Linked DNA regions of Homo sapiens. The protein of the gene in region 2 interacts with the protein of the main gene of each other region in a pairwise test. Each region holds a gene or a part of one and is shown on either strand. Other genes may lie near its edges.

Region 1 (4,085 bases), on a different chromosome or scaffold from region 2:
ACTGTAACCTCTAACTCCTGGACTCAAGTAGTCCTCTCTCTCGGCTTCCCAAAGCACTGGGATTACAGGTGTGAACCTGTCAAAATCAGTGGCTCATTTATAGAGCTTGATACAGCTGTAATCGAGAAGCAATGCTTTTGCTCTGAGAAACTCCAAGCCAAATCAATCAAACAAACACCTTAGCCTTAACAAGCTTAACAAGAACACTGCCCCACCATGTGGTTCAGTAGGGAATATCTTGTGTGTGGAAACTACATTATCCTAACCCTTTCTCCCACAAATAAAGCGAGTTACACAGGAGAAGTCAGTACCACTGGCGATAAATTAAATTAATAGATATTGCCACCAGAGACTAGCCCTCTAGAGTGGAATATACAGGCATTTCTAAGAGCCAAGGTAGCTCACCTTGTAATGCACAGAGCAAAGCCACAATTACAGCGCTCCACCTACAGCCCACCCGAGACTGCAGCCTTCTAAAGGGAGAAGACAGGTGACAATGATTAGACATCAAGCCCTTGTTAAAGAAAACCAGTTTATTCTAAAAAGCTCTAAATGCCCTGTGCTTGGTCCCTGGTCAGGGAGAGGTCTCAAGAGGTTACTACCTGCACAGGGGCTGAAGGTACAGGGGGAAAGTCAGGTTTCAGTTGGTTGAGTCCTACCTTATCTGTTTGTTAGGCTTTTTCTAGAAAGTCTCGCTCTGTTACCCAGACTGGAGTGCAGTGGTGCGACCTCGGCTCACTGCAACCTCCACCTCCAGGTTCAAGCAGGTCTCCTGCCTCATCCTCCTGAGTAGCTGGGATTACAGGCACACACCACCATGCCCAGCTAATAATTTTTTTATTTTTAGTAGAGATGGGGTTTTGCCATGTTGGCCAGGCTGGTCTTGAATTCCTGACCTCAGGCAGTCCGCCGACCTCAGGCCTCTCAAAGTGCTGGGATTACAGGCATGAGCCACCAGACCCGGCCTGTGTTAGGCATTTATAAGGAGATGGCAGTCCAGCTCCTGGTGATAAGAAAATGTAGACTCCCAAGATTCATGTTTTAACTTTCTTCATAAGTTAAGCAGGAGTCATTTGCCTCTGTCATGAATTCCAAGACTACAAAGTTTTAAGAGATGCTGGGATAGCAAATGAGGCTTGAATTCTGTGTTGACAAGCCCACACACCTCATTTCATTTAGTATCCAAGAGATAAACAAACACCACCTCTTCTACTCCAGGACTGGCATCTCTGGACTTTTCTGCCATAATCCCAAATCAGGCCAACTCTCCTTCCTCTAGGATTCGCGTGGTGGGATGCCAGGCAGTGACACCCTTAGAGCAGGAAGTCTGACTGTAGACCCAGCTACACCCCAACCAGTGAGGGTCTGCATTGGGCACTTGGGCCTCCTCGTGAGGCGGGGGTCCAGGGTTCTGGTGCAATGCCCAAGGCAGGGCCACTTCTCAGCCCTAGCTCTGGGCCAGCACAGTGCCCCGGTTTGGCTGCACCAACTCACAGGCTCTTAGCTGGGGTTCTGGCAGGTGGGGCTCGGCTAGAAACAGATTAGACAGTGTTGCTAATTCTTCAGCAAAGTCCTGGAATACATAGAAAGATGAGGGAAAAGGCAGCATGTAATAATTCTCAATGGCTCATCCTTTGTCACTAAAGACCACAACCTGGCTGGCTATATTATTTTTTCTCAACTGCCCTCCACACTGAAATGGACATGAAACCTTGTCTGTTTGTTAGTACTCTGGGAGGCTGAAGTTATGGCAGGGAGCGAACTCTGATGGAGGCACAGGCTTGACCAGTTTTTGAGTACTACTGAGTGCATCTACTTCATCTTGAAATTATTATTCCCGTTAAAATCCAGGTTATTCTAATTTTAAAAACCCATATAATGGGCTGTGCTGCTTTCCAACTAACTGCCTGCCTTTCGTCCGTCTTCCCACTAACACAGTCCCTCATATAATAACTACTCAAATCGGGACAATTTCAGGGTGGCCCTGAAGACTCTTGACAAAAATCCACTTAGTTTGGCCCCATCACTTGCTTCCTTTCAGGACAGATGGGATATGTAACACCTGTTCTCTCTCCACCTAAAAGACAGGAGACTCCTTACCCCTGGCCACTGGGCCTGGTGGAGGCTGCCCAGGCAGGCCTCTATCTCCATCCGTCCCATCAGACCCTTCTCCACCAGCTCCCGTAGCAAGAATAGCAGCAAGTCCCACTGCAAAACACACCGAGGTCAGGGTTGCTAGGAGGACGACAGAGTGACCCTGATGACAGAGATTGAGATCTCAAAGGGCAGAGCTGCTGGGAAGAGACTTGAGATGGATAAATGGAGCCCATTTCTGTGTGGAACAGGAAGGGGAAATAAAGGATGCAGAGCAGCTCATAGTTTGGGGCAAGGGTGGTGGATGTTCAGAGTGTGACTGCAGAGGGCTTCTTGTTCCGTCTGACTCACCTCCCTTGGCCTTGTGTCTGCCAGAAGCCCCACATTTCTTGGGCTCAGCAGCAGCTGCAGCGGAACCGGCCCCTGAAAGTCTTCCTTCCACAAGGAAAGCAGCATGTGCAGAAGCCTTCGAGCCTGCCCTCTCTCCAGCCTGTACTGTGCCGGGGGCCCTAGGATAGGAATTTGATCTGCAACTGTGGAAAGAGGAAAGCCAAGCTTTAAAAGATGGGGGCAGGCCGGGTGCGGTGACTCACACCTATAATCCCAACACTTCGGGAGGCTGAGGTGGGCAGATCAGGGGTTCGAGACCAGTCTGGCCAACATAGTGAAACCCCATCTCTATTAAAAATACCAAAATTAGCCAGGCGTGGTGGAAGGCACCTGTAGTCCCAGCTACTTGGCCGAGGCAGAATTGCTTGAACCCGGGAGGCAGAGGTTGCAGTTAGCTAAGATCGTGCCACTGCACTCCAGCCTGGGCAACAGAACAAGATTCCGTCTCAAAAAAAAAAAAAAAAAAAAAAAAAGGGACAGAAGAGGGCTCTGTTTCTAATCTTGCTTGTACCCAACCCTGAGATTTGGGGGATCAGGCAAGAGAGGGATTTGATGGAAAGCAACCATACCGAGGAGGGAAGCTAACTCCACAGAGCACTTTGCCAGATGCTGCTCAGCAGGTGGGCACAGGAACTGCGGTTGGGGTGGGGGGGAAAGAGAGACCATAGGTATCACCATGCTTACTGCTGCGAGAACTGGCCCTGAGCCAGTGTGGCTCTGGTTATCAGGTCTCACACAAGGACACAGAAAAAAGCCCCCCGGTGGCAGATGCCACAGCTCACCTGGCGGCACCGCAGCGTCTGGCCCAGCTGGCCTAGGAGCTGTTCCAGATGCTCTGGGGAGACTCCCTCGTCAGGGTCCCGTGGCCCCACGGCCAAGGAGAGCACGTCCTGTGAAGAGCAGGGGGAGATATCACCTTGCGCTGGGGGCCAGGATGCCACAGAGAATTTGGCTTGGGACAGGGATCAGCCAGTGGAGAGAGGCAGAAGAATGGGCCCCGGGATATGGTGAGTAAAGCCAAGTTGCCCCTAGACCTGGGACTTGGGCAGGATAATACAGCCAGGGGAAGCAACCATGTGGACAACAAAAGAGGGAACAGATGGAGGTCAGCTGAGGGACAGTAGGCTGCCATAGCATGGGAAACGTCACTCAACTTGGGACCAAACTGTAGCTAACCAACTCCCATAGGGCATCTTATTCTTGAAGCATGTAAGGAAACCGGCCTATCAGATACCGTCTTAGTATCGTCTGTCTCTCAAGCCTCTCTGTTCATCTTCTCTGGAGAGCTGAGCTTTCAATACAGAAATCCTCTGCATATTGACAACCAGTATCAAATGGCCACTAAGCCTCTTCCTCTCCCTCCTACATAATCTCCATTTTTTAGTCATTGTACCTTATAGTCCCTATTCCAATCTCTATTCCTAGATCATTACCCTAGACCAGAACCAGACAGTAAATATTTTAGGCTTTGCAGGCCATAAAGTCTGTGTCCCAACTATGCAACTCTGCTGTTCAGTAGTTGCACAAAAGCAGCCATAGGCAGCTCGTACACAAATTAATATGGCTGCATTCCACTAAAACTTCACTCACAAAACAAGGGG
Region 2 (3,500 bases):
TGACTTGACAGTACTGCGACAATACTCCTGTTTGTGAAACTCGGAACACAAGACTCTGGAGGCTGTGTCTCCAGCAAATGTCCAGAGCGTACTGTTTTATGTATTCAAAAAAACAAAACAGAGAAATAAGAAGAGGTCAATAAATGTCCCCAAAAACCCTGGAGAGATACTAACTTTCAATCTAAGAAAAAGAACAGCTTCCCAGGGCCCTGCCAGTGAGACACAAGGACACAGAATGTAACTTGCTGATGCCAGGTTAAAATGAAATTAACTACATCAGAAAAAACCTCCGCAGACCATCAAGAGATGTGTCTAACGTTCTCATCTACAAAACCAGGTTAAATATTTAGCCACACTCATCACGTCATCTGCTTGGGGGGTACCCAGCCCCCAAAGACTCAAGTGGCCTTCACAACAGGTGACACCCCTCAAGGGGCCTGAGACCTCCTGCCTGGAAGGACACCAGCCTTGCTTGGAGTCTCCGGCAAGCCCCGAGGAAGGTGAGCCTCCCCAAGGAAATCACGTACGTTTGACACACAGCAGCAGCAAATACTCACCGTGGAAAAAGAGCCTTCCCCAAGGATTTTCCCAAACTTGAAGTCCTCAGGCCGCTTCTTCCGAGGCTGCGGCGGAGGCTGGGCATGCTGCAGGGAGCCGGCGCCGGGCCGAGGCTCGGCTGCAGTGCCGTCCATGGCGGGGCCCTGCCTGCTGCCACCAGGAATGCCAGGGGGCGTGCTGGACTCAGTCTGGGTCCTCACCATTGATGGGGATGGGCAGGAACATAACACCACGCTGGACTGGATGGGCACGGCGTCATACTAGGCGACAAAGAGGAAAAGGAAGTAAGGCTCAAGGCAGCTGCCTTGCTCTCAATGCACGGACTAAGGTTTAAGGACCTCATTTCAACGCTCAAAAACAAACCCCAAGCACAGGGCAGGCCAGCTGAGCCCCGCGGTCTGCTGTGAGCTGCCGGCCTCCTCTCCTGAGTCCTGCCCGTGCCATGGCTCCCCGCTAATCCACCAGGCAGCGCCTCGCCCTCCTCCTGTCCCTCGCGCTGCCTGAGCCTCCAGCCAACTCATCCCAAGGCCAAGGTAACCTGAGCAGAGATAGCACGGCACATCTTTAATTGTGGGGGGGATGGAGAGATAAGAGTGATGATCGCATGTGTTTACAATACACAGAGACGCCCAGTGCTGGCAAGACTATAATAAAGCGAGCGCACTCACACCACTGCGGCTGGCACCAAAAACCGGGATTGCAGTGGAAATGTTTTTGGAAAGCAGTTTGGCAACTGTCAACAAAGCGACTACAGAACAGTTGTCAATGAGACACAGAAATACGAAGGAGAGGAGGGAGGGCAGAAACCCAGTTAACAATGTAAGCGGGCACGGAGGGAAGATCAGCGTGCAAAGCTAGGTCGGCAAGACGTGCAAGGTGCACCCACAGCCATAACAATCCCTCCCCAGACCCCAACGTGTCCTCACGGTGGTGGCAGTGGCCCCCCGCACTACAGAAGAACAATGCGAGGCGAGCTCAGGCGCGCTGATGGTGGTTTCCGATACAACTCCCCACTCAAAGAACCCCGGAGAGCTCTTGATTCCATCTCTCAGTAGGGTCCTGAAGTCCATGCTGTCTGAAGACACAGGGTCTCCCCCTGCGTCTGTGCCAGGACAGAGGGACTGCCACCAGCCAAGCTGCAATCCTTTTAAACGCTAAAAACGGCCGGGCTTGGTGGCTCATGCCTGTAGTCCCAGCAGTTTGGGTGGATGAGGCGGGTGGATCCCCTGCGGTCGGGAGTTCAAGATCAGCCTGACCAACACGAATAAACCCCTTCTCTACTAAAAATACAAAATTAGGCCGGGCACAGTGGCTCAGGCCTGTAATCCCAGCACTTTGGGAGGCAGAGGCGGGAGGATCACCTGAGGTCAGGAGTTCGAGACCAGCCTGACCACATGGAGAAATCCCGTCTCTACTAAAAATACAAAAAAACTAGCCGGGCTTGTTGGCGCATGCCTGTAATGCCAGCTACTTGGGAGGCTGAGGCAGGAGAATCGCTTCAACCTGCAAGGCAGAGGTTGCAGTGAGCTGATAGCATGCCATTGCACTCCAGCCTAGGCAACAAGAGTGAAATTTCGTCTCAAAAAAAAAAAAAAAAAAAAAAAATAGGCCGGGCGCAGAGGCCAAAGTGGGTGGATCACTTCAGCCCATGAGTTCAAGACCAGCCTGGGCAAACACAGCAAAACCTCACCTCTACTAAAAATATAAAAATTAACCAGGTACGGTGGCATGTGCCTGTCGTCGCAGTTAATTGGGAGGCTGAGGTAGGAGGATTACCTAAGCCCGGGGAGGTCGAGGCTGCAATGAGCCAAGATCACATCACTGCACTCCAGCCTGGACGACAGAGGGAGATCCTGCCTCAAAAATAAAAAATAATAAGTAAATAAATAAAAAGAATATATTCACTATTTTGCTTATCAAAGTCTCTTAAAGGAGGTGACTTACCTACGCTATGGACCCAATTACTCAGCCAATAAGAGGACACGGTCCCTGCCCATAGAAAGCTGATGTCCAGCCTGACCTCAATACAAAACCATCCAGTTAAAGTGGTGGGGGTGGCTATGCAGAGACGGGCGGGTGCCGGGAGAGTCAAGGGCAGCCCCTTGGCTGGCCAGGGGCTCAGACAGACCAGCTGGGGAGATGCATCACTCGCCCAGGAAAACTGATGACAGCTTAGATGGCACTGCAAGAGCAGGGAGGATCACACTCATGTCCAGAAAGTGAAACATAAAACAGCTAAACATGTACCACACAGCTTTCATACAAAAATTTTATATACACAAATTTTGAAAAAATAGAGATGGGGTTTTGCTTGTTGTCCCGGCTGGTTTCGAACTCCTGAACTCAAGTGATCTGCCTGCCTCAGCTTCCCAAAGTGATGCAATTACAGGCATGTGCCACCATGCCTGGTGACTTTTTTTCTGTTTTGAGACGGGGTCTCACTCTGTCTCCCAGGCTGGAGTTCAGTGGCATGATCATAGCTCACTGCAGTCTCGACCTCCTAGGCTCAAGTGATCCTCCCACCTCAGCCTCCTGAGTAGTGGGACCACAGGTGTGCACCACCGTGTCCAGCTAATTTTTGTAGAGATGGGGTCTCATCATGCTGCCCAGGCTGGTCTCAAACTCCAGGGCTCGAGTGATCCGCCATCCTTGGCCTCCCAAAGTGCTGGATTACAGACCTGAGCCACCACACCAGGCTGCCCCACACATTGTAAAGTTTCGCTTCCCTCTAATGTCAGATTCCAAAGACAGCAGCCTTCATGAGTCAGAAAGAAACATCGGTCATTTTGAAATCAACATCCAACTGAAGTGTAGAAAGGCCTCTGGATTTTTGAAACGGCAACAACAGATGATGTAATACAAAGACGCCCCCACCCCACTGCTTTCCCACTGCATGCTTTACATGACATGGCACAGCTTCCACGCCAGCAGCTTCAATCATG
Region 3 (3,500 bases), on a different chromosome or scaffold from region 2:
TGGTAGCAGCACTTTTCCCAAGCCTGGAGAGACATGAAACCCTCTGAGGTGACAAAACAAATTTGCAACTTGCCCCTTTCTCGGAAATCAGAAACCTGTGCTTTTAAGTTCTACAATTCACTCTTGTTTCAGCAAGTCTGGCCCAACATTGCCTAGTTTCCATTATTGTACTAGAGATCCAGAACTGAACCTCAAACAGACCTGCAAATAACTGATTGTCTTTTGTAAGTAATACATAGGGAATTTTAGGGAAGCTGTCTGTGTCAAATTAAGAGATTTGAATTCCAATTCTATCTCTGATTCTGTGCAACCCAAACAAGACACAACTGTCAGTAAGTTTTAGTTTCTTCACATAAAACCTGGGTATAATCACCCATGTTCACATCCTGAGTTACTCTACTCTGATGTCATGAGGAGAAATAAATACAAATACATTAGTGAACTTTGAATTCTCACGAAGCAAGATGCCCTGTAGCTTTATGTCCTGAGTACCTCCAACAGAAATATGGGCTGTTCATAACTCCTTAGATTTATATAACAATATACAGTTTGAAAAATGCCTGCATACATTATTTCATTTGATGGCTACATACAAACTGTAGGAGCTCATAAAGAAACAAATTGTCCATGTTATTGACATAGAAATGTGACACTACAATGAGTTAAATTACTGCCCAGCATCTAAAATCAAGAATTAATTATTAGTAACTGTCTCTCCACAACTCACCTGGTTCTACAACATAGCATTTTATGAAGAATATGTTGATTTTTGTGCCTAGCTTTGAATATACCATCTCCAAAATCACTTGTGGCAGTTGGGCTGGTGAGACAATTAAAGGTCATAATGTTGGTTTTTAGGAAGCAGCAGAAATCTACATATAGTCTGAATTGATAACATGTTTCTTTCTAATCTCTAACATGCCAAAGTATCTTTAACTGAAACCATTTAGAGGCTCCTTTCTAGAAGGAAGTCTGAAAATTTTACTAAAATGAAAGAAATCAGGAACAGAGAGGCTCACTTGTAAGAAAAGATTAAAAATGTGGGTTAAAAACAATTTCAAATGTTCATGTATCTGAAAGGAACAAAAGCAATGTGAAAAATGGAAAACTCATCTTGGTTCAAAATGAAAACCAGGAGAGACAAAATTTTTAAAAGGTAAGTATTTTCCTTCAGTGAACATTGCAGAATTAGAAAATATCCTCCATATCTTCACTTAAAAGTTGTTACTTATCATATTGAGAAACTGGACCAAATAAGCATTAAGAACTATATTATGATAATTCCACATTTAGAGTTCTGCTGTGTCAGGCTCTAGAAATGGAATACAATCTCATAACTAAGTGAACCAATCACAAAGAAGTAAAGTTTCATAGTAAGACTGGTTCATTAGAAAGACCATCTAGGAATTTAATTTATTGACTATCAAATACACTATTATTTGCATGACAGAATATTGATAACTACTGAAGGTGGGTGACAGGCATATGCAGGGTTCTTTAATACAATCCTGTTTACTTTATATATGTTTAAAATTGTCCAAGATAAAAAGTTAAGAACTAAATAACCTTGGCCGGGCACGGTGGCTCACGCCTGTAACCCAGCACTTTGGGAGGCCGAGGTGGGAGGATCACAAGGTCAGGAGATCGAGACCATCCTGGCTAACACAGTGAAACTCTGTCTCTACTAAAAAATACAAAAAATTAGCCAGGCGTGGTGGGGAGCACCTGTAGTCCCAGCTACTTGGGAGGCTGAGGCAGGAGAATGGCGTGAACCTGGGAGGCGAAGCTTGCAGTGAGCTGAGATCGCGCCACCGCACTCCAGCCTGGGCAACAGAGCAAGACTCCGTCTCAAAAAAGCAAAAACAAAACAAAACAAAAAAACAACTAAATAACCTTATTATAAAGCAGCATGGACAAAATTCAGGGAAATTTTGGGTGGCTGCATAGTTTCTGACTTGCCTAAGTCACAATGTGCTAACATGTGACAAACCCTCACAGAATGCCCCAATCTCCACTCTTTACTCAGATTCCCAGCCACAAATGATGCTCTAGGGGCCTTTTCTCCCAATGTCAGACATTTACATAACATCTCCAGGTCCTTCATACAGTTTTATATCCCTTCATCCACTCTTTCTGGTCACCAATGACCATGAACTGACCTGTTATTTCTTGAGTGGACGACATGCTACTAGAACAGGGAAGGTGAGAGAAAGCACAGTTTAGTGGTTAAGAAAACTGGCTCTGGTGTCAGGCCATCTGGGTTATAATTCTGGCTCTATCATTTACTAGCTAGGGGATCTGCAGGTCACTTTGGCTTAGAGATTAGGCTCTTCTCAGATGAATTTCTGACTAATAACGAGAGGAATCAAAGGTGACTTCCTTGATTTTAAATTCTTAAATATTTTATAAAATATTTTTATCAACTTTTCAAAATGAAAGATAATATATCAAATCCCGAAGTCTGTTCCCTCACCTAATTGTGAAATTCATTTCTGATATGATCCATTAACAAGGTACAAAATGGATAGTCAAGTATTTTAAGAAGCAGGGGAGAAAAGAAACCCAGGTTGGTATTACATGTTAGATATGCATCCAATTTTCAGTACAACTGACTATGAATACTAGAATTCATCAACTTGAAGTAATCCAACTGGTACAGTAAAGCAAAAACTGATTTCTCCTTTTATGTCCTCCTGCTCAGAAGAAACCTTCTGTCCATTTTTGGAATAGTCAGGTTATGTGTTACAAAAGAGTTTCTGGGCAGGAGAGCCATGAACATGACCAATGGGGAGAACCAAAGCCAGGGCTGGGCAAAGGGGAAAGGCAGCTTGCCCAGGTATCTTTGCTCTGTTTATCTCCAGCATGTATTATCAACACTGCTTTTTCAGAAACATCAATCTTAACAGTCAGAAATCCCAAAGAGAATAGCAACAAACTGTTAACAATGTTATCTACAGAAACAAAATCCCAGCAATGCTTCTTAAGGTTGTCATATCTCCCAAGAGAGCATAAACAGAGGTCCTACCTCAGACCTGCCAGCCAATGTCCACTAGGATGACAGACAAGAAGGCCCTGCTGGGATAAACACATATTGCCAACATAATAACATACTATGCGCTCTCCTGAGGTCAGGCCAAGTGTGCCAATTAAATTAGATCATGTTTTCTTTCCTTCCTTCCTGTTAAGTTAGAAAGAACATTACCAAGAAACACATGAGAATAATTTATTTTGGCTTGAATGAACGACTCCCTACCCCCACTTCAGTTCTATTTCTTATCTTTTGGCTCTCTACTGAAATGCTTTGCTGTGTATAGTCACAGGCATTTCAGTTATTTGAGAACAACAAAAAAGTTAATCTTTACTAGATAGCTGCAGATTTCACTAAGAAGGATTACAGGAGAGTTACAGGGATAGCAAGATCCCATATTTTACAGTTCTCTAAGCATAATAATGAAATGAGTAAGTTAGCAAAAGCAAAACTTTTATTGAGTAAAAGTAAA
Region 4 (3,500 bases), on a different chromosome or scaffold from region 2:
TTCATTAGATGGGGCCGGGTGTGGTGGCTCATGCCTGTAATCCCAGCACTTTAGGAGGCCAAGGTGAGAGGACTGCTTGAGCCCAGGAGTTTGAGACCTGCCTGGGTGACATAGGGAGACCCCATCTCTACAAAAAAAAAAAAAAAAAAAAAAAAAAAGTAGCCGGCACGTGGCCCACGCCAGTAGTCTTGGCAACTCAAGAGGCTGAATGAAGCAGGATGATTGTTTGAGCCTGGGAGGTTCGGGCTGCAGTGAGCCATGACTGTGCCACTGCACTCCAGCCTGGGCAACAGAGCAAGACCCTGTCTCAAGAAATTAAAAAAAAATTCATTTGATGGGCTTCAGTATATTAAAAACAAGAAAGAAAAGAGTAGTGAACTTGAAGACAAGCCAACAGAAATCATCCAAAATGAATTGCAAAGATAAAGACTGAGAAAAAACAAACAGAGCTTCAGCAACGTATGGGACAATAAAGTTCCAGAAGGAAAGGGAGAGATCATGCAGAAAAAGTAATTTATAGAAGCAATGGCTTGAAATGTATTAAATTTGACAAAAATGATCATCCCACAGACCCAGAAGTTTAAAGAGCCCCAAGCAGGACGAAAGCAAAAACCACAATGGTCAAATTGCTGAAGCCAAAATTAAATGCAAAATCTTAAGGCAGAGAATCAAAGGGTGCCATTATACACAGTTTATAAGGATAAGAATCAACACCAACTTCTAAGCAGAAACAATACAGGCCAGAAAACAAAGTAATATCTTTTTTTTTTTTTTTTTTGAGGCAGAGTCTCACTCATGTCGCCCAGGCTGCAGTGCAGTGGCGCGATCTCAGCTCAGTGCAGCCTCCACCTCCCGGGTTGAAGCGATTCTCCTGCCTCAGCCTCCTGAGTAGCTGGGATTACAGGCACCCGCCACCATGCTCAGCTCATTTTTATATTTTAGTAGAGACGGGGTTTCACCATATTTGCCAGGCTGGTCTCGAACTCCTGACCTCAGGTTATCCACCTGCCTCAGCCTCCCAAAGTGCTGGGATGACAGGCGTGAGCCGCTGCGCCCAGCCTAGTAATGAGATCTTTTAAAGTGACATCAGTTTAACTGCTGAATTAAAAAAAAAAAAAAAAAAAAGAAGCAGCTGTCAACCTAGAAATGCATATCCAGAGAAAATGCCCTTTGCAAAATAAAGGCACCAAGATGTTTTCAGATAAACAAAAGCTGAGGGGATTTGTGACTGGCAGCTCTGCATTACAAGAAATATTAAAAATTCTTCAGGCTGAAGAGAAATAATAACCAGACCAGATTATACTGAAAGAATGAAGAATGTTATAAATGGCAAAAATAGAAGACTTTTTCCTTCTTTCTTAATTTCCTTAAAACAAAGTTGACTATTTAAAACAAAAACAGGGCCGGGCACGGTGGCTCACGCCTGTAATCCCAGCACTTTGCAAGGCCAAGGCGGGCGGATCACCTGAGGTCAGGAGTTTGAGACTAGCCTGGCCAACACAGTGAAACCCCGTCTCTACTAAAAATACAAAAAAAATTTAGCCGGGCATGATGGTGGGTGCCTCTAATCCCAGCTACTTGGGAGGCTGAGACAGGAGAATCACCTGAACTCAGAGGCAGAGGTTGCAGTGAACCGAGATCGCACCACCGCTCTCCAGCCTGGGTGACTGAGGGAGACTCCATCTCTCAAAAAAAAAAAAAAAAAAAAAAAAAAAACCATACTGGGTGTTTATGTCATACGTAAAAATAAAATGTGTGACAGTAACAGGACAGGAAAGGCATGAATGGACACACACTGCCGTAAGGCTCTTCTGGTGTCAACAGGGTGATGTAATTTCAAGTCAGATGATTATAGCCCCCAGCAACCCCTGAAACACAACACAGAGATGTACAGCTCAACTCACAGTAGACAGAATACTAAAAACACTTGTTTTTTAAAAAAAGAAAAGAAAGAAAGGAAAAAAAATCAAAGGGACAAAGAGAAAACAAAGAGCAAGATGACAGACTTAAACCCAGCCACATCAATAGTAACAGTAAATTAAAATGGGCTAAAAATTCCAATTAAAAAAACCCATTAGACTGGATAACAAGAAGACCCAACTACATCTACATTCTGTGTACAAGAAACTCACCTTAAACATAAACACACAGACCAGTAAAAAATACAAGAAAACAACAGAGCAAGCTGACACTGGTCATGACAAAGCTGAGTGACTCTGTTAGCACCAATGAGACCGCGTCAACTTTAAGACAATGAGCATCGCTAGAGAGAAAAAGGGACTGCTGTCTGTGCTTTGTGGGTCACCTCCATCACAAACCATGACTCCCGTACTCCCCCAAACCCTGTGCCCCATGCTAAGTCACTGAAATAAATGACTCATTTAAGCCTCACAACTTCCCTGTAAGGCAGGAATCAGCATTTCCACTTTCTGCACAAGGAACCAGAAGCTCTAAGATGCTTAGATAACTAGGCCAGGCACGGTGGCTCACGCCTGTAATCCCAGCACTTTGGGAGGCCGAGGCAGGTGGATCACGAGGTCAGGAGATCGAGACCATCCTGGCTAACACGGTAAAACCCCGTCTCCACTAAAAATACAAAAAATTAGCTGGGCGTGGTGGTGGGCACCTGTAGTCCCAGCTACTCGAGAGGCTGAGGCAGGAGAATGGTGTGAACCCGGGAGACGGAGCTTGCAGTGAGCGGAGATCGCGCCACTACACTCCAGCCTGGGCGACAGAGCGAGACTCCATCTCAAAATAAAAAAAAAAAGATAACCTCTAAGGCCACACAGCCAACAGTGGGGAGCTGAGTGCAGGTCCCCCCGTGGCCTAGGTCCAAGGTCCACACTCCTCTGCCTGCTCAGTCCCACAGAGACTCCGGGATGGCCCCAAAAGGTAGCACCACGCGCAGGACACTGCCTCAGGCCTTACACACCAACCCAGCCACCACCCAATCGCAGTCTCCTTTCTCCCTCCCAGGCATCTCTGCCTTGTTCAGTCCAGGCCCACCAGGGATGGCACAGTGAGGGGTAAGAGAGGCCTCAATGTCAACCCCAAGCTCTCAGGGCAAGAACCCAGAGCTGCTCACGTTAGGTGGGGCAGGCGGTCTGGCAGAGGGAGTAAAACACTGTCGTCTCTAAGGGCTGACTCCTCAACAGGTGCCTGAGCTGCTCAAAGCCAGGTCAGGGAAAACACACGTGCTCAGAGTGGAGGCTGTGTACTGAGACCTGAGGGTCTCTGATGACGGCCCTCCTGTCACTGTCTGGAAGCACCCACTGAGTGGTGCGGGGCCCTGGGGAGCCACAGCCACCCCAGGCCAGTAGGCAGTTCACATGGTGGGGAGACGGCAGGGCCACACCAACCCCCAGGGGTAACCGGACTTACGTGCATGTACGAGTGTACACACACACGCACGACCCTGGTGTCTGAGCGAGAGGAGGGGGGTGCCAGGCCAGACCCTGCTCTGGGATCACACGCACCTCCAGCAGGCGTGAGATGGCGTC

What was found. Proteins that work in one complex are often made in the same cells at the same time.
Region 1: the proteins of PDPK1 (region 2) and CDAN1 interact in a two-hybrid assay, tested with the Homo sapiens proteins (one large-scale study listed by IntAct).
Region 3: the proteins of PDPK1 (region 2) and BLMH interact in a two-hybrid assay, tested with the Homo sapiens proteins (one large-scale study listed by BioGRID and IntAct).
Region 4: the proteins of PDPK1 (region 2) and SBF1 interact in a two-hybrid assay, tested with the Homo sapiens proteins (one large-scale study listed by BioGRID and IntAct).

Annotation. Positions count from the first base shown.
Region 1 is NC_000015.10:42,723,044-42,727,128, forward strand, and holds the end of CDAN1 (codanin-1), read right to left. Parts: intron 3,375-4,085; coding exon 3,267-3,374; intron 3,118-3,266; coding exon 3,054-3,117; intron 2,628-3,053; coding exon 2,446-2,627; intron 2,209-2,445; coding exon 2,101-2,208; intron 1,574-2,100; coding exon 1,448-1,573; 3' UTR 501-1,447; downstream 1-500. UniProt on the Homo sapiens protein: May act as a negative regulator of ASF1 in chromatin assembly.
Region 2 is NC_000016.10:2,555,021-2,558,520, reverse strand, and holds part of PDPK1 (3-phosphoinositide-dependent protein kinase 1), read right to left. Parts: intron 819-3,500; coding exon 558-818; intron 542-557; exon of another isoform or gene 1-541. UniProt on the Homo sapiens protein: Serine/threonine kinase which acts as a master kinase, phosphorylating and activating a subgroup of the AGC family of protein kinases.
Region 3 is NC_000017.11:30,260,945-30,264,444, forward strand, and holds part of BLMH (bleomycin hydrolase), read right to left. Parts: intron 1-3,500. UniProt on the Homo sapiens protein: The normal physiological role of BLM hydrolase is unknown, but it catalyzes the inactivation of the antitumor drug BLM (a glycopeptide) by hydrolyzing the carboxamide bond of its B-aminoalaninamide moiety thus protecting normal and malignant cells from BLM toxicity.
Region 4 is NC_000022.11:50,451,036-50,454,535, forward strand, and holds part of SBF1 (myotubularin-related protein 5), read right to left. Parts: coding exon 3,477-3,500; intron 1-3,476. UniProt on the Homo sapiens protein: Acts as an adapter for the phosphatase MTMR2 to regulate MTMR2 catalytic activity and subcellular location. Promotes the exchange of GDP to GTP, converting inactive GDP-bound Rab proteins into their active GTP-bound form.